Linked DNA regions of Homo sapiens. The protein of the gene in region 4 interacts with the protein of the main gene of each other region in a pairwise test. Each region holds a gene or a part of one and is shown on either strand. Other genes may lie near its edges. The genes, in order: TRIM74, MNAT1, RPP30, RNF32 and GCDH.

The links.
Region 1: the proteins of RNF32 (region 4) and TRIM74 interact in a two-hybrid assay, tested with the Homo sapiens proteins (one large-scale study listed by BioGRID and IntAct).
Region 2: the proteins of RNF32 (region 4) and MNAT1 interact in a two-hybrid assay, tested with the Homo sapiens proteins (one large-scale study listed by BioGRID and IntAct).
Region 3: the proteins of RNF32 (region 4) and RPP30 interact in a two-hybrid assay, tested with the Homo sapiens proteins (one study listed by BioGRID).
Region 5: the proteins of RNF32 (region 4) and GCDH interact in a two-hybrid assay, tested with the Homo sapiens proteins (one study listed by BioGRID and IntAct).

Annotation. Positions count from the first base shown.
Region 1 is NC_000007.14:72,959,454-72,962,977, forward strand, and holds the end of TRIM74 (tripartite motif-containing protein 74), read right to left. Parts: intron 1,993-3,524; coding exon 1,897-1,992; intron 799-1,896; coding exon 568-798; intron 456-567; coding exon 429-455; 3' UTR 32-428; downstream 1-31.
Region 2 is NC_000014.9:60,737,756-60,741,279, reverse strand, and holds part of MNAT1 (CDK-activating kinase assembly factor MAT1), read right to left. Parts: intron 1-3,524.
Region 3 is NC_000010.11:90,892,453-90,895,976, reverse strand, and holds part of RPP30 (ribonuclease P protein subunit p30), read right to left. Parts: intron 1,203-3,524; coding exon 1,086-1,202; intron 524-1,085; coding exon 494-523; intron 98-493; coding exon 60-97; intron 1-59. UniProt on the Homo sapiens protein: Component of ribonuclease P, a ribonucleoprotein complex that generates mature tRNA molecules by cleaving their 5'-ends. Also a component of the MRP ribonuclease complex, which cleaves pre-rRNA sequences.
Region 4 is NC_000007.14:156,661,262-156,664,785, reverse strand, and holds part of RNF32 (RING finger protein 32), read right to left. Parts: intron 1-3,524. UniProt on the Homo sapiens protein: May play a role in sperm formation.
Region 5 is NC_000019.10:12,897,330-12,900,499, forward strand, and holds the end of GCDH (glutaryl-CoA dehydrogenase, mitochondrial isoform a precursor), read left to right. Parts: coding exon 1-99; intron 100-373; coding exon 374-534; intron 535-1,456; exon of another isoform or gene 1,457-2,011; coding exon of another isoform or gene 2,012-2,056; intron 2,057-2,138; coding exon 2,139-2,212; 3' UTR 2,213-2,370; coding exon of another isoform or gene 2,371-2,414; 3' UTR 2,415-2,670; downstream 2,671-3,170. Other genes in the region: SYCE2 (synaptonemal complex central element protein 2), read right to left, coding at 2,012-2,056, 2,675-2,791, 3,131-3,170. UniProt on the Homo sapiens protein: Catalyzes the oxidative decarboxylation of glutaryl-CoA to crotonyl-CoA and CO(2) in the degradative pathway of L-lysine, L-hydroxylysine, and L-tryptophan metabolism. It uses electron transfer flavoprotein as its electron acceptor. Isoform Short is inactive.

The DNA.
Region 1 (3,524 bases), about 84 Mb from region 4:
GTAGCAGGGACTATAGGCGCATGCCACCATGCCCAACTAATTTTTTTATTTTTGTATTTTTTGTAGAGACGGGGGTGTTACTACATTGGCCAGGCTGGTCTCGAACTCCCGGCCTCCAGCAATACTCCTGCCTTGGCCTCCCAAAGTACTGGGATTGCAGGCATGAGCTACCCTCCTCTAGTATTTCTGTAGCTTGAGTGAACTTCTGCTGTTCTAGGTACCCACAGTTCACCATCTGCCTCCCCACCTGTCTGCGAGACCCTTGAAGGCAGGGACGTGACTTTCCTCTATCTTCCCCAGGCTCAGTTATAGAGCCAGCTATAGGCAGCTGCTTGGGAGGCGCTGGTTAAGCTGAATGGAGGAACCAGTGGAGCTGAGATGCCCGTGCCCGCAGCCACCAGACCCTGGCTGAGCTCTCTCCAAGGTTATTACCTGGAGGCCATGGAGTGGAACTTCTGGAAGGCAAGAGAGAGGGAGGTTAAGGCTAGAAGGTGGGAAGCCAGGGCACTGTTGGGAAGGGGAAGGCCCTGGCGGGTATGGGGATGGGACGCCTCCCTGTCCACTCACCCAGATGAACTCATGGTGGTCCTCATTTCCGAACTGTTCCAGCACACACTCGGCTTGGGCCAGCCGCTCCCGGGTTCCCTGGGCCTGCTCCAGCTGCATGTCCAGGGAGGCCACCAGGCCACGGGTGTGACCCCCTATCCCCTCCAGGCAGCGGGCCTTCTCCTCGTCCACCGGGTGGCGCAGCTCCTGGAACTCGCGGCGGATCACCCAGCTGAAGACATCCGACTCATTCTGGGACAGGGAGGGCTGCTCACTGCAGAGTCACAGCCGAGCTGCCAGGCTCTGTCTGGCTGGCCTCGGTGTCCCCAGGGCCTTCCTGACCGGGTTGGTCCTGGGACCTGAGTCTCAGGGGAGGCTGCATGGCCTGGCGCCGGGCAGGGAGTTCACCCCATGCATGGGGAGCCCTGGCGGTGGCCGTGGGGAGGGTGGCCCCAGCTCCCATTTCAAATGGAGAGGCTCTGCTTTGGCCTGTTTTAATTTTTAATTTTTTTTTTAACAGACAGGGTCTCACTCTGTTGCCCAGGCTGGAGCGCAGTGGCACGATCATAGCTCACTGTAGCCTTGACCTCCCAGCCTCAAGCAATCCTCCCGCCTCAGCCTCCCGAGTTGCTGGGATTACAGATGCACGCCACCACACCCCACTTTGCCTATTTCAGCTATTAAATGTGCATATCCCAGAGTTCCACAACTGAAGGAAAGCAGGAAGGCCCTGGGCGAGCGGGCTTTGCTGTGAGGGAGCCAGAACTCCCTGCAGAACCCTGAGCTCCGCCTCCACCAGGCAGGGCTGATACCGCCTGCCGCGCAAGGGTGAGGAGGGTAAATGAGGGAGGCCAAGTGCTTCTGGATCTTGCTCGGCTCCTGTTTCTGTTTCACAGCCACCTCCAGGGCCGGGGCACTATGCGTCCCAGCCCCATGTGCCTCTCAGTTCAGGAGATCAGCCAGGGCCCAGGGCTGCCAGCCTCTCCACGCCTGCGCACCCAGGTACTGGGAGGGCACCATGACAGGCTGGCAAGGTCAAGCAGACACAGGTGGCACAGGGGCGGAGGAGTCACGCCCATGCTTTCAGCTGTTTACCCCCGAGACTCAAGTCCTGGGTTATCTCAGTCTCAAGGACACAGAGGGCAAAAGCCAACTTGGAGCCAGTCCTAACGACAACTGGGTTGAATTCCCCTGAGAGGATTTGCGCTTTCCCCACCCCGCCCCGGAATGCTTTGAGTTCTGGCTTTATATGGAAGGCATGGTTTTCTGTAAAGGACCAATGAGAACTGAGCTCTACAGGAAAGTGAAGGTGGCCGGTCCCAGGCAGGGGCAGAGGGAAGGGGCACTCACGACGATTCGGGTCCGGTTTTTCACCAGTTTGGCGATGAGCTCATCCACCTTCTTCTGCTCCTGCTTCAGCTCAGAGAAGAGGGCTGCGAGCTCCTCCTGGAGGCAACAGGCCATGGCCCCATGAGCAGCTGATCCCTCCCCTTCTCAGCTCCTTGGATCACCTTCTTGGGAGTATCCCAATGGCCACAAGCACTCCCAGGGAAACCAGGGCGGGAACCAGAGCCACCCAGGTACCCTTGAGTCCAAAACAGGTTAAATTGTTCAAGAATAGTCTGGGCGCAGTAGCTCACGCCTGTAATTCCAGCACTTTGGGAGACTGAGGTGGGACTTCACTTGAGGTCAGGAGTTTGAGACTAGCCTGGCCAACATGGTGAAACCCCATTTCTATTGAAAATACAAAAATTAGCCAGGTGTGGTGGCACACACCTGTAGTCCCAGCTACTTGGGAGGCTGAGGCACGAGAATCGCTTGAACCTGGGAGATTGATGTTGCAGTGAGCTGAGATCATGCCATTGCACTCCAGCCTGGGTGTCACAGTGAGACTCTGTCTCAAAAAATAAAAATAAAAAATAAGATAATTCAAGAATATTCTAAGGGCCGGGCGCGGTGGCTCACGCCTGTAATCCCAGCACTTTGGGAGGCCGAGGCTGGCTGATCACGAGGTCAGGAGATCGAGACCATCCTGGCTAACACAGTGAAACCCTGTCTCTACTAAAAATACAAAAAAAATTAGCCGGGCATGGTGGCGGGCACCTGTAGTCCCAGCTACTCCGGAGGCTGAGTCAGGAGAATGGCATGAACTTGGGAGGAGGAGGTTGCAGTGAGCCGAGATTGCGCCACAGCACTCCAGCCTGGGCAACAGAGCAAGACTCCATCTCAAGAAAAAAAAAAAAGAATATTCTAGGCTGGGCACAGTGGCTCATGCCTGTAATCCCAGCACTTTAGGAGGCCAAGATGGGAGGATCACTTGAGGCTAGGAATTTGAGACCAGACTGGGCAACACAGTGAAATCCCATCTCTAATGTTTTTTTTTTCTTCAAAGAATATTCTGGGCCGGGCGCGGTGGCTCACGCCTGTAATCCCAACACTCTGGGAGGCTGAGGCGGGCGGATCACGAGGTCAGGAGATCGAAACCATCCTGGCTAACACAGTGAAACCCTGTCTCTACTAAAAATACAAAAAATTAGCCGGGCGTGGTAGCGGGCGCCTGTAGTCCCAGCTACTCGGGAGGCTGAGGCAGGAGAATGGCGTGAACCTGGGAGGCGGAGCTTGCAGTGAGCCGAGATCGCCCACTGCACTCCAGCCTGGGCGACAGAGCGAGACTCCGTCTCAAAAAAAAAAAAAAAAAAAGAGAATATTCTGCATTGACAGCAGGAACTTCCCAGGCATAAGAGGGTCTCGATGTCACCCCTGTGCATGACATGGAGACAGTCACTAAATGTTACAGCTACCAGAAGTCACCATGTGATGCTGGCACTTCCTGGATTGAATGCTGCCTGTAGGGGACCCATCAGGTGAACTCTGTGGTCACCAGCAGATCCAGAATTAGTGGGTATTTAATCAGGAGCCATCACAAAAAGGCCGGCGCCAGGTGAGGCTAATTCTAGGGCCAGTGGTGCTCACACGGG
Region 2 (3,524 bases), on a different chromosome or scaffold from region 4:
CATTTGAGCCCAGGAGTTTATGATTGTGCCACTGATATTACATGGGTTAAAAAATTTTTTTAAAGTAAATGAACGGAAAAATGCACACTATCAAATAGTAAGCACAAGAAATCTGACAGTGCCAAATTATTATCAGACAGAATCTTCAGGAAAAAGCATATTACAAGAGACAAAGAGGGCCATTTCATAATGATAAAAGGAGAAATGTATTAGGAAGGCATAACAATCCCAAATATGTACCCAACAAGAGAGTTCCAAAATGCATAAAGTATGACAAAACTTACAAGAAAAACTGACAAATCTATAATCATAGTGGAGTAATTCATAAGATGAGTAGATAAAATAAATTAATAAAGATACAGAAGATCTGGTAATGCTATCAACCAAGATGGGTATGGTAATATGTACCACGTTTATAACTTATACTACACTACACCCAACAACCACAGAATGTATATTCTTTTCAAATGTACACTGATTGTTCACAAAGACAGGCCATATGCTGGACCATAAGCAAGCTTTCAGAAAACTTCAAAAGACTGAAATTTTATAGAGTATATCCTCTTATCACAACAGAAAATTATAAAATAATATATCTAGAATGTTCCTGTTCTAAATCTTCCACCTAAAATAAGTGCCTTTTCCTAATTTTCTACCCAGAGGGGGCTCTGTTTCCCAATTTGCACAAAGGTACTGAATAAGATCAGTATATTAAATGAGTTAACACCACTTATTATTCTTATCAACAAATAAATTCAAACTTAATCTGATAAAACTTTTAAACATAACTAACAATTTAGAGGAAATACTGAGAACAGAAGAACATATTTAACAATATCACAGAGATGCAATAAGCAAAATTCGGACTCTTCAGGATAAACTATCCAGTAACATCAGTAAATGAGAGAGAAATAGGAGAACAGAAAAAAAAGGGAAAAAAAGAAAGAGAAAGATGTTAAGTAACTATCACAAAACATTGCCTTTATATATCAAGATGGTAGGTACTTGATTTTGCTTATCTTGTACTTTGCGTCTCGTGCGTGATGAAAAAAGTAGATTTAGCACATAAAATTTCCAGAGACAGGTTTTGCCAAGAATGGTTGGGATAGAAATTAATTTTTTTTTAAGATGGAGTCTTGCTCTGTAGCCTAGGCTGGAGTGCAGTGGTGTGATCTCGGCTCACTGCAACCTCTGCCTCCCAGGTTCAAGTGATTCTCCTGCCTTAGCCTCCCCAAGTACCTGGGATTACATGCCCATGCCACCACACCCAGCTAATTATTGTATTTTTAGTAGAGACGGGGTTTCACTATGTTGGCCAGGATGGTCTCGAACTCCTGACCTCAGGTGATCCACCCGCCTCAGCCTCCCAAAGTGCTGGGATTACAGGCGTAAGCCACTGCACCCAGACAGAAATTAAATTATTAAAGGCTGTAGTTAAATGAGAATTAGATACCACTGCCTCCATCTAATTCTATATGCCTTCAGAATGGAAGGCCCATTTCTTGAAATAGGTGGCCTGATAAAGAAAAAAAATTACCATTTTCTGTAATTGAGACAATGTTCATCCTTGAACAGAAAAAATTAAAAAAAGAACATGAAATCCAATCTTCTTCTATATGCATACAATCAATTCATTTGTGCATTTGCTAGATTAAATTGATAAGTAGGGAAATATGCTTCTTCAATTGCTAGCAGCTAAGAGACAAAGGTATTTAATAATGTTTCACCTCTTTTCTCTCCTCTCTGCTCCTGTATTTTCTCCCATAAGTAAAACTCCTAGTTAATTTTTCCATAACCCTATAGTTCCTCTTTTATGAAGCACTACTCCTACTCACTTTATCACTTGCCTCCAAAAAGTCTTTGCTACTTGAGGACATGAAAAAAAAAAAAATAAGTTAATAAAATCCTGCGGAAGCCAGCCTTCAAGATAGCCCAATGATATTCACACTCTTGGTATTCACACTCTTGTGTGTACTCTCCCACATTATAACACTACAAAACACCAGAGGTGATGGTATATCACTTCTATCATTAGGTTTTAAAAGGCTCTACAGCTTCCAGTTCCCTTCCTCCCTCCCTTTCTCTCTTCTCCCATCCATCTCTCCAATCTTCCTTACCTCCGCTCATATCACTAGTTCTGGGAGAAGCCACGTCATAAGTAGCCCTATGGAAGAGTCCATGGGGAGGAACTGAAGCCTCCTGACAAGAGCCACATGAGTGACCTTGGAAACAGATACTCCAGGCCCAGTCAAATCTAGACTGCAGTCCTAGCCAACAACTTGATTACAACATCCTAAGACCGAGCCAGAATCATTCAGCAAAATAATACCTGCTCTTCTCAGACTAACAAGCATATTATAAAAATGCCTATATTCAATCCCATGAAATATATGCCATAAAAACTCAACAAACTATCAAAAAATTTTTCATTAAGAGCCAAAATGAGGCTGGACACGGTGGCTCACGCCTGTAATCTCAGCACTTTGGGATGCCAAAGCGGGTGGATCACCTGAGGTCGGGAGTTCAAGACCAGCCTGACCAACATGGAGAAACCCCATCTCTACTAAAACTACAAAATTAGCCAGAGGTAGTGGCGCATGTCTGTAATCCCAGCTACTCGGAAGGCTGAGACAGGAGAACTGCTTGAACCCGGGAGGCAGAGGTTGTGGTGAGCTATCACGCCATTGCACTCCAGCCTGGGCAACAAGAGCAAAACTCCATCTCAGGCCGGGCGCAGTGGCTCACACCTGTAATCCCAGCACTTTGGGAGGATCGAGGCGGCTGGATCACGAAGTCAGTAGTTCGAGACCAGCCTGGCCAACATAGTGAAACCCCGTCTCTACTAAAAATACAAAAATTAGCCGGGCATGGTGGCATGCGACTGTAGTCCCAGCTACTCGGGAGTCTGAGGCAGGAGAATCACTTGAACCTGGGAGGTGGAGGTTGCAGTGAGCCTAGATCATGCCACGGCACTCCAGCTTGTGTGACAGAGCAAAACTTCGTCTCAAAAAAAAAAAAAAAAAAAATCCAAGATGTTTTTCTTATCAGAAAAGCATCTGATAAGATGCTTTTAAACATCTTTTAAAATGCAAGATTTTAAAAAATAATATTAGCCAATATAGGCAAAGTTGTGTGGCAATAGGAATCTCCATACAGTTGTTGGTAACATAATTGACAAGATCTTTTTTTTTTTTTTTTTGTAAGATAGGGTTTCCCTCCTGGCTAACACGCTGAAACCCCGTCTCTACTAAAAATACAAAAAAATTAGCCGGGCGTGGTAGCGGGCGCCTGTAGTCCCAGCTACTCGGGAGGCTGAGGCAGGACAATGGCGTGAACCCGGGAGGCGGAGCTTGCAGTGAGCCGAGATTGCGCCACTGCACTCTAGCCTGGGCGACAGAGCGAGACTCCTTCTCAAAAAAAAAAAAAAAGGATAGGGTTTCCCTATGTTGTCCAAGTTGGTCTCGAACCCTCCCTCCTCAGCCTCCCAAGTAGCTAGGATTACAGGTAGGAACAACCATGCCTGT
Region 3 (3,524 bases), on a different chromosome or scaffold from region 4:
TTCAAATTCAAAATTTCCTGAAAGACAATGTCAACAACTTTTTACTCAGAAAAGGATACAGATTTGCCACGTCATATGGCCCTCTTATTTCTAAAGGCTGAAATAAAATGAACAAAGAGTAGATATGAGAAAATTATTTATAACATTTCAATGACTTATAGCAAATTAATAGAAAATTTAAGTATCCAAAAATAAAAAAATTACATAAATTTAAGTCCTTATAATTTTGATGGGTTTCATAGCTTTTGAAAATATAAGAGAAGCTTGAAAGGCATTTTGTAACAGTATAAAAGAAAAACTGATTATATAAACAAAAGTTGAAGCCTAAAGAAAGTGGGGATAAATTTTACTATTTAGCAATTACAATGAGCAAATGCAGTTAAAATAGAAAAAAATGCAACAAATATTCATTTACTATTTTAATTTATCCCCTAGAAACTGAAAAGTTTTATAACCTGAAAGATGAAAACAAAGTACTTCATGCTAGACTTACCCTTTCTGCAGCACTAGATATAATTACATTCTACAAAATAGAAAGTGACTAATATTAATCTTAGATAAATGTAAAAAAAGGAGTTTCATAATATAAATAGCCAGTAATCATATTTTAACATTTAAGGCTCAAATACCAACTTCTTTTAAAGATAAGGTAAATAATTAAGGTGAAAAAAATGAAAAGACTTCATGTCAAACTAAAGGCAATCTGTAATAAAAAACAAAATATGTTTTCCTAACAGATCTTAGTAAAGGTGAATTAAGTTTAAAAAACAAGATGAAAAGGTCACATATCTTAATTCAACTCAGTGAGGACCATTGTTATTCTAGACTTTTCTTTCACAGTATGTAAATTGCAAATTTTTATCAAAAGATATGGCTTCCAACACATCTTTTTCTCCCTTACATTATTCTTCCCTTGGTATTTTTCTTTCCCTTAAAATTTGCAGAGCTCACTGAAATGGCAGAATTTGTTCCTATGCTATGAGAACATTCTGCTTTAAGGAAAAGGAGTCAGTTTGACAATTCCAGTGTACTACTAATAATAAACTGCCAGATGCGAAAAACATCCTAAAATTATAGAACCATACCTTTCCTTTGCAGATTTGCATCAAATTGAGGGCACTGGAAATTGTATACCTTCTCATTGTGGAGTCTTTGATAGCAGGGCTATAGACAAGTTCAAAAGCCAGGCCTCGGTCAATCGCCTTCACAGGAAATAAAGAGAACTGTCAGAGATAAGCATGCACTGGCCTACTTCATTTTCACTGATTCTCTCTTCACATCCCTCCTCACTCCCTACTACTGACCCCTTACATGTCAAGGTACAGCTTTATGAAAGACAGATCAACACTCAAATGGCACCACCCACAAGGAGAAGAAAATAAATCCGTGGCTCTACTTGATTAAGAGAGTTTAACTTGGCTGTGGGGAAGCTGACTTTACATAAACAGGAATTATGAAGAGGCTAAGAAGAACAAAGTCCCAATGGCGTGAGAGAGGGGCTACTACTCCATGAACTATCAAAAGGAAAACAGAAATGTACTCCCTACATTTACAGTAAACTGTATACAAACATAGTAAACCAAGTAATCTGACCTATGAATGCACAAAGAGACAAAGAAATGAAGAGCTGAAAAAAGCCCAAAGAACCAAGGGCAGGAAGGTCTTTCAGGTAAGTAATTTATTCTCTATATGTTGAAGAGAGAATAACAGCCATAGTTAATTGAGTGCTGACTATATGCTAAGAGAGTCTTATATATAATATTTAATCCTTACTACAATACCTTTATAAAGCATTACTGCAAAGCCTGCAAATTGCCCAGATATCTGTCCTCTCCTTTTTCTTTAGTAATAAAGCCCCTGATTTTTCACTGGGCTTATAGCCGCACAGCAAAAAAGATGGAAGTGCCCTTGAAGATTTTGCCCAGCTCACCATACAAGCTTGGCTTTTTTCATGAGAAACAGAAACTTCTTTATTTAATGTACTCTTACTACAGAGGGATCCACAGGTAAGTAGATGAGTGGAAATGATATTGAAATTAACCACCATACTGTTCAGCTTTCCTAATGAGCACCTAAATGTCTGCATCCATTCACAAAAGATGTTTTAAGCCCACTACGTGCAAAAGCTGAGATGGTTTCTCCCTTCTAAAAGCTTACATTTTAGTGGGGGAGATGATCAATAACCACACAAAAATACAAAACTTCAACTGTGTTAAGTGCTATCAAGGAGAAGTTTAGGGTTGAGGAAGAAATTAAGCAGTTAAATAGTAGAGGAAGGTGCACTTTCAGAGGGAGGTCAGAGCATGCAAAAGTCTTCAAGGTTGCAGCATGGCAGCACGTAGGGAAGGTCAAATGCTGGAGAAAAATAATGAGGAAGACAGGCTAAAGAGGATGGGAAGGGCCAACTGTGCAGGCCTTTAGAGCTGGTGATGAGGATTATTCCTAATGGAGAAAACATCTGAAGGATTTTCAGCATAGAGATGATAATCAGACTCTCAATTGCAAAAGTCACTTGAGTGGCAGTACTCTTTCAAAAGAATAAAGAAAGAATGGTAGGCATGTTCTAGGCAGTATGGTCCAAGTCTCTGCTTGGCAAATGAGTTTCGATTGCCCAGAGTATAAGTTGGGACTGGCCCAGCTGTGACTACTGGGGTTTACTCCTGAGCATTTACGGGGAATGGAGAAACTTGTCTTTTTCTAGAACTGGCAGTCCATCTTGATTTAATTCAGTTGTACTTGAAGGCCCCTTCTGCTTTTCCCTCCCGAACACAGATTTCCTTAATTCTTCCTCCGGCTTCAAGGCTCCCAGATTTTATTTTAGATTTTCCTATATGTCTGATTCTAGTTTGGTTAGAATTTAAATGCTATTTTCCACACTGCAACCTTTCCCTCTCTCATTTTTTGACTTTTCCCCATCTCTAATTCTTTCACCTGTGTTGATTATTTCTGGGAATGACATTTGTTAAGATAGTATTTCTGTCCTAGTTGAACGTGTATCTCATTGGCTCTGCCAAGCTTGCACACTTCTTGAGAGCTAGACTGCCTTTTACATAAAAGGTGTATAATATATTTATATTTTGAGTGAATAAATAGCAGCTTATGGAGAAGATGTCCTGTGATAACGTTGTTCATTATAGATGATCCATCATCAAAGGAACCTCGGTGCACCTGGCTAACCAAAAACCACAGATAAGTAAAAACATCCCTTTTAGCCATATTATCAGCCATCTCCTTGGCTATATATTTTACCAAAACTACTAATTAGCTGAAGAGGCTGACCTGTATTTCTTTTCCTTATCCTTCTAGTTGTGGAACGATAATACAAGGCAACAGGATGATGAAGAGGGGAAATAAATGAAAGAGGTGAATGATATATAGAGTTGGATGCTTAGATCTCGAAATATTCCTAATTGACTGAATCTAAATTTCTAGACCCTTGTGGGTACCAAATCAAAATAAAAACAACTTTTGCGGGGGGAGGGGAGAAAAAAAGGATATTATCAGCATAATTATTTTTTAAGGAA
Region 4 (3,524 bases):
GCTAGATGAAAAGAGTCTTTTCTAAAGGCATCTGAGGATGATGATGACTTTCTTTACTAAGATAGGGTCCGTGTATTATTTGTCTCACATTTATTATTAAGCTCTTCCAGTTTTGAGCTGTAAAATATTCTACTCATTGATTACATCTTTAAAAAAGAACAATAAAATAGATGCAACCCCTAAACATTAATATATAATATATACAAGGAAATTCTCCACTTGTACCAAACATGTAAATCAAGATGATCATTTTGCCTTGTCAACCAGGACAAATTACCACCTAGTGTGCTCTTGCAGTGTTTTTCTTTTTCTTTCTTTTTTTTTTGGATGGAGTTTGACTCTTGTCGCCCAGGCTGGAGTGCAATGGCACGATCTTGGCTCACTGCAACCTCTGCCTCCCGGGTGCAAGCTATTCTCCTGCCTCAGCCTCCTGAGTAGCTGGGATTACAGGCGTGCGCCACCACGCCCGGCTAATATTGTATTTTTAGTAGAGAAGGGGTTTCTCCATGTTGGTCAGGCTGGTCTCGAACTCCCGACCTCACGTGATGCCCCCGCCTCAGCCTCCCAAAGTGCTGGGATTACAGGCGTGAGCCACCGCGCCCGGCCCTTGCAATGTTTTTCTATAGCCTTCAGAACGTTGTAAAAGCCACGGTGGCAATCACGCAATGTGCCGTGTGCACTGGAGCAGAATCTGAGATCCAGGCTCTCTCCCCGCTCTGAGCTGCACACGTTCTGCTAGGATTGTGGTGTTTTGTCTGTTCCCTCGTTATCTCCCCTGACTAACAAAGCACAGGCAGAGAGCAGGCACCCAGGAAGCTATTTGACTCCATTAATTTCATGTATCCATTAAAATGTATTTGAGAGTGTAATCCGTGTGGAATGTTCTTGGCAGTAACGCATAAAGCAGTGTTCTTTAACCCCCTTCAGATGAATGAACTCAATTTCCCAATTGATTTTTCTCAAATAATTTTTTTCTCCACTGGTCTGAAATACCTTCTTTAGTACACTAAAATTTCCTGTATGCTGAGATGTGTGACTTTCTACTGTTTCATTGTTTGTCTATTATTCCCCAAGAATCTTAGTTGCCAAATTTATATATTTTGATATCTAACAAGGCTGTTCTATCTCATCAATCTGTCTTTTAAAAAAATTATTAGCTCTTCATACCTCTTTAGATAAACTTTAGAGTTAACCTGTAAAGTCCTAAATGCACAGCCAATCCTACTCCTTTGGGAGTTAGAAACTACATTAAATTTATATAAAGTAAGTGGACATTTTTACTCATTCCAGTGTAAAATGTCTGTCATTTTATTCAAGCCTTTTATTCCATCAGAAAAAATTTTTTCTTATCAGTGTGGTACATTCCTTGTTTGGCTTATTTTAATATAAATATAATGTAAAATTGTAATATACATGTGTGGATTTATATAATATGCATAACATATACACATATGTGCACACACATATATTTTGTTTTCATGTGTTATTGGCAAGGATTGGCTCAAGTGTGATGACAGTAAGTAACCTAGTTTTCTTTATGGTTTTTTACTCTCTAAAACAATGTGTTTTTAGTATTTGACACATAGTTTTTAATGTGACAAGGAAATTTCATTCTAGTTCTAGTGTCTTTCATTATTAAGAATGGCTGTTAAGGCCGGGTGCAGTGGCTCACGCCTGTAATCCCAGCACTTTGGGAGGCCGAGGCTGGTGGATCACGAGATCAGGAGATCGAGACCATCCTGGCTAACATGGTGAAACCTCATCTCTACAATTAGCCGGGCATGGTGGTGGGCGCCTGTAGTCCCAGCTACTTGGGAGGCTGAGGCAGGAGAATGGCCTGAACCTGGGAGGCGGAGGTTGCAGTGTGCCGAGATCGCGCCACTGCACTCCAGCCTGGGTGACAGAGCGAGACTGTGCCTCAAAAAAAAAAAAAAAAAAGAATGGCTGTTAAATTTTATTTAATATCTTTTCAGTAAAAACGGAGATGCTCATATAATTTTTTTCAGTCATTTCATACTTTAAATTTCTTTCCACGTTTGCTATTTTTACAGGAAGTAATTTCAATTATATTTTCACTTCTATTGCATAAAGTTGTATACAACAATTTTGTAATTTTAAAATGATTTCTATTTATATGGGTACACCTCCCTTTCTGTGTATCTACAGAAAACCAACGTCCCAGGTCAAGCAGTCAGGCAGAGACAGAGAGAAAGCACACGCAAGAGAGTGAGACTGTGCCTGTGTACACACGCAATTCACTTTACTGAGTCCACTGATTCAAATGCTCAGCTCATCTGGAAATACCCACAGGCACACCCAGCAATAATGTTTAACCAGATAACCTGAGCATCCCTTAGCCCAGTCAAGTTGACACATAAATTAACCATCACACCTGGGTAATGTGAAATTCAATAACCTAGTTCAGTAACCTTTTGGATTCCATTAAATATGCAGGGCATTCTAAAATTGTAGATTAACATTTCTCAGAGGATTCCCATCGCTCACAGAATGAGTTTATTAAGTTGGAAAGGTAGAAAAAAAGCATCAAATGGTGAGGTCATTTGGTAAATGATTAAGAAGTGGTCTTTATTATAAAGGACAGCTGTTGAGTTCTACCCATACAGGCATACAAGCACATAGGGCATGGACCCATATAGGCACCTACTACCTACTGCTAATACACTATTTTACAGTAAGTTCAATCTTCATTTATTTAACATGAGATCTGAGTTTACAGATTTCAAGTGTTTATGGCCAAATGAGTTAAGTGAGCAAGAGTTACATGATAGGATCCCTATTCATGTAACAAATTATGAGTATAACCTCACTATGATCTGAGTGTGTGTGCGTATATGTATACATCTGTTCCTCCCCACCCCCACACTTGAAACTTGAATGAGGTAAGATTACAGTTCAGCAGATAACACGGTCACTTGTATTATGTTTAAGGTGGCAGTTATTGATAATGCAGACTGCTGATATCTACAACCCATCAGTGACCCATAACATTAATGTAGTAGGCCCAGCACTTTGGAAACGAAGTGGAATAAAAATGAACACAGTGTGGTGCCTGCAGTGAAAGCAGATTTTGCTTTGCGAAAGTTACGTTTCTGTTAACTGTATACATGTGGTGGGTCATTGCTGTAAGCTAAAAATAAAATCCTGGCCAGGCCATGGTGGCTCTCACCTGTAATCCCAGCACTTTGGGAGGCCAAGGCAGGCAGATCACCTGAAGCTGGGAGTTCAGGACCTGCCTGGCCAACATGGGGAATCCCTGTGTCTACTAAAAAATACAAAAATTAGCTGGGCATGATGGCGGGTGCCTGTAATCCCAGCTACTCAAGAGGTTGAGATAGGAGAATTGCTTGAACTCGGGAAACGATGGTTGCAGTGAGCCAAGATCGTGCCACTGCACTCCAGCCTGGGCAGCTGAGCGAGACTCCGTCTCAAAAAAAAAAAAAAATCCTAAGGCCCCCAGCAACAGAACGAACCCCCTCTTGGCCAAGGGGGCCCTAGGAAAACCT
Region 5 (3,170 bases), on a different chromosome or scaffold from region 4:
GAACCAGCTGATTCAGAAGAAGCTGGCAGACATGCTCACTGAGATTACCCTGGGCCTTCACGCCTGCCTGCAGCTCGGCCGCTTGAAGGACCAGGACAAGTAGGGGCTGTGTGGTGGGGGCGGGGGGATGGCAGCGGTGGCTGGAGGACCTTGTGTCCTTCCTGGAGAGAAAGGTCCTTCCTGCCTGGTGGCCCTGGGGACCTGAACCTTCTGCTGTCCCTCTTGTCCTTGATGGGCTGGGCTGAGGACAGCCCCACTGGTCCCTCATTGGGAGCTTGGCTGCATCAGGGAATCCCCACCCCGGGCTAGGTTTGCTTGGAGCATCGGGATGCCAGGATCCCCAGTCCTTGTTACCCTCATGTGCCACTCCCAGGGCTGCCCCCGAGATGGTTTCTCTGCTGAAGAGGAATAACTGTGGGAAAGCCCTGGACATCGCCCGCCAGGCCCGAGACATGCTGGGGGGGAATGGGATTTCTGACGAGTATCACGTGATCCGGCACGCCATGAACCTGGAGGCCGTGAACACCTACGAAGGTAGGAGCTGGACCTCAGAGGGCTCACTGAGGCCTCAGTGTCTGGGGAGGGGGTACAGGGAGGTGGGACGGGGACAGGTCTGAGTCCAACTCCACCTATCACTAAGTGACAGTGTGACCTGGGGCGAGCCTTACCCCTCTGTCCCTCATCTGGAGTTACTCACATGGGGACTGTGGAAGTGAAGTGCTTCATGCAGCACACAGAGGCCCCATCAGGCCTTGCGAGGGGCTCCCAGCTCTTTCTCCCACATGCTCGGGAGGAGGGATGTTCCTGAGACAGGTAAGCTCCGAAGGCAGCCCAGGGGTGAGGCCCGACTCCTAGCAGGCTGGTGGACGCAAGGGAGTGAGCGAAGCTACACGCAGGAATCAACGCTCCATTTTGTTAAGAGACAAAAGTCATCTTCAGATGACGGTGTTTGCACCCTGTAACTGATGGTGATTTACATGGGGGTCCAGAACCCCTTGCTTGGTGGGAAGACAGATGTGGAAAAAGATACTTAAAAAAAAAAAAAAAGTGCAAACCCAGCATGCGCTATGTAGAAATAGAGGGAGGTATGAGGACCCCCCGGGCAGAGATGCTTCCAGACAGAGAGAACAGCAAATGCAGGAGGGGTGCCTTCCCTGCGCACCTTGCAACCCCAGATCTTGTCTCTATCTGGCATCTGGGGGGTGGGGGGATCCTACAAATGTGAGAATGACCCTGAGGACAAGCAGCGGGCGCCATGAGATGGTTTTATGCAGAGAAGGGATGAGTCAGATTTGGTGCTTTAGGGGCTCGGCGCAGTGGCTCACACCTGTAATCCCAGCGCTTTGGGAGGCTAAGGCAGGAGGATTGCTTGAGCCCAGGAGTTAGAAGTTATGATGAGCTATGATCACCCCACTGCACTCCAGCCTGGGTGACAGAGTGAGACCCTATCTATATTTAAAAAAAATAGGTTTGTACTTTAGGAAGTAAACAGAATTGGCTCTAAAAAGGAGGCTACAATCTGCCTTCTGCTTCAAGGAGCTGGGGAGGAGCAAAGGATGAGACACCAGGGCATGGGGTGTGGGATTCTCTGGGAGAGGCGGCTTCAGATGGGCAGAGGTCAGCTGAGGCAAGTGACTGCTCTTCCGATGTGCTGTCCCTCCTATCCCTCCCGAGGGTAAGAAAGGGCTTGCTGTGTTTCCTTGGAGCTCAGGGGTGCTTTCAGCCTCTGTGGCAAGGAAGCGTGGCCAGGTTGAAAATCAAACATTTAATAAACTGTGGGGCTGGGGGTGGGGAGAACTTGCCAAGGGTGGGGAGCACGAAGCCTGGGCCTATGGCAGGGGCTGGACTTGCTACATTTTGGGAGTTCAGCACAAGGAGCTTTGGGTTTTTGTTTTTTTCTGCCAAGATGCATTATAGAACCATGAAAAACAATTTCTCAGTGTGGCCCAAATGGTGGCCTCACAGTCTTCTCCTGGAGACTGTCACTAAGGCGTGAGTCTCCCGGCAGCTGTCAGCATTCACCATCTCTGTTGGTCTGTACTTCTGAAGCAGTGGCCTGGGGATACATGAAAATTGATTTTAAAGGGAAGTTGTGAGCTATGAAAACTCCAAACCGACTCTGTATTAATCTTGTCCAGGTACACATGACATTCACGCCCTGATCCTTGGGAGAGCTATCACGGGAATCCAGGCGTTCACGGCCAGCAAGTGAGCCGCTCCATCAGGGGCCCGAAACTCTCAAGCCCCTTTCTGGAGAGATGCCTGGCTGGACCGTAGGAGCGCTGTGCTCTGAGCTTAGAAAGGGAGGTGGCGGATGGAGTGGGAAGTGAGAGACACTGATTTTTAAATATCAAAATTTCCCTTCTGAAGTCGTTCAGATGTGTTCCTTAAAAAGAAGATGGAATTCTCTGTAGAGCGTCTCAATCCACTTTTAACCATGGATGAGAGCAGACTCCATTTACCCTGAAATAGCAGCTTCTCTTGAGAGGAGAGTGACATGGAAGCAACTCCGTCTGCTGCAGCTGACCCCCTCACACTGAGTTCACAGTGCGCCCTCCCTCCCTCCCATCTGGGGGTAGTGCCTTATGCTGGGTGTTGGAGCAGAGTGAGGGAGAGGAAAATAAAGACCTGCACATCTGACCCCAAGGTGTCAGGCCGGTTTACTGGTAACCACCTGAGAAGTAGTTTCAGCCACAGAAGAAACGAACACGTCTGGGGGCTGTGAGTTGCCGGGACGTGGTGGGGACTTTCCCCTAGAGTGGTCTGGCCCCCATCTGAGTCTTAGGCTCTGCTGTAAAAAAGAAACCCAGGTTAGCAGTGCCGGTCTGTGCCAGGGCTGTGGGCAGAGGGGATGATTTCTGAGTGGCAGGGGTGCAAGGGACTTTGTCCTTTCTGTCACCACAGAGCTGCTCATACAACAGTGGGACATGACAACGGTTTGGCTTCTCAGCTCAGACACACCATGTTATAGGGGATCACAAACAAGATGGTGAGTGCACCAAGGGCTTTGCAGGGACTGTGGCCTGGCGGGGTCAGGGCTGGGTGCCTGGTTTCTGTTCACATTTACTCTTGGCTGGGCCATCCCTGTCCTCTTCCTCAGGCAGCGCCCCCCCTGTGAGTTTACTCATACCTCAGGCTGGAGACACAGGTCTTTGTACACAGTCTCCACG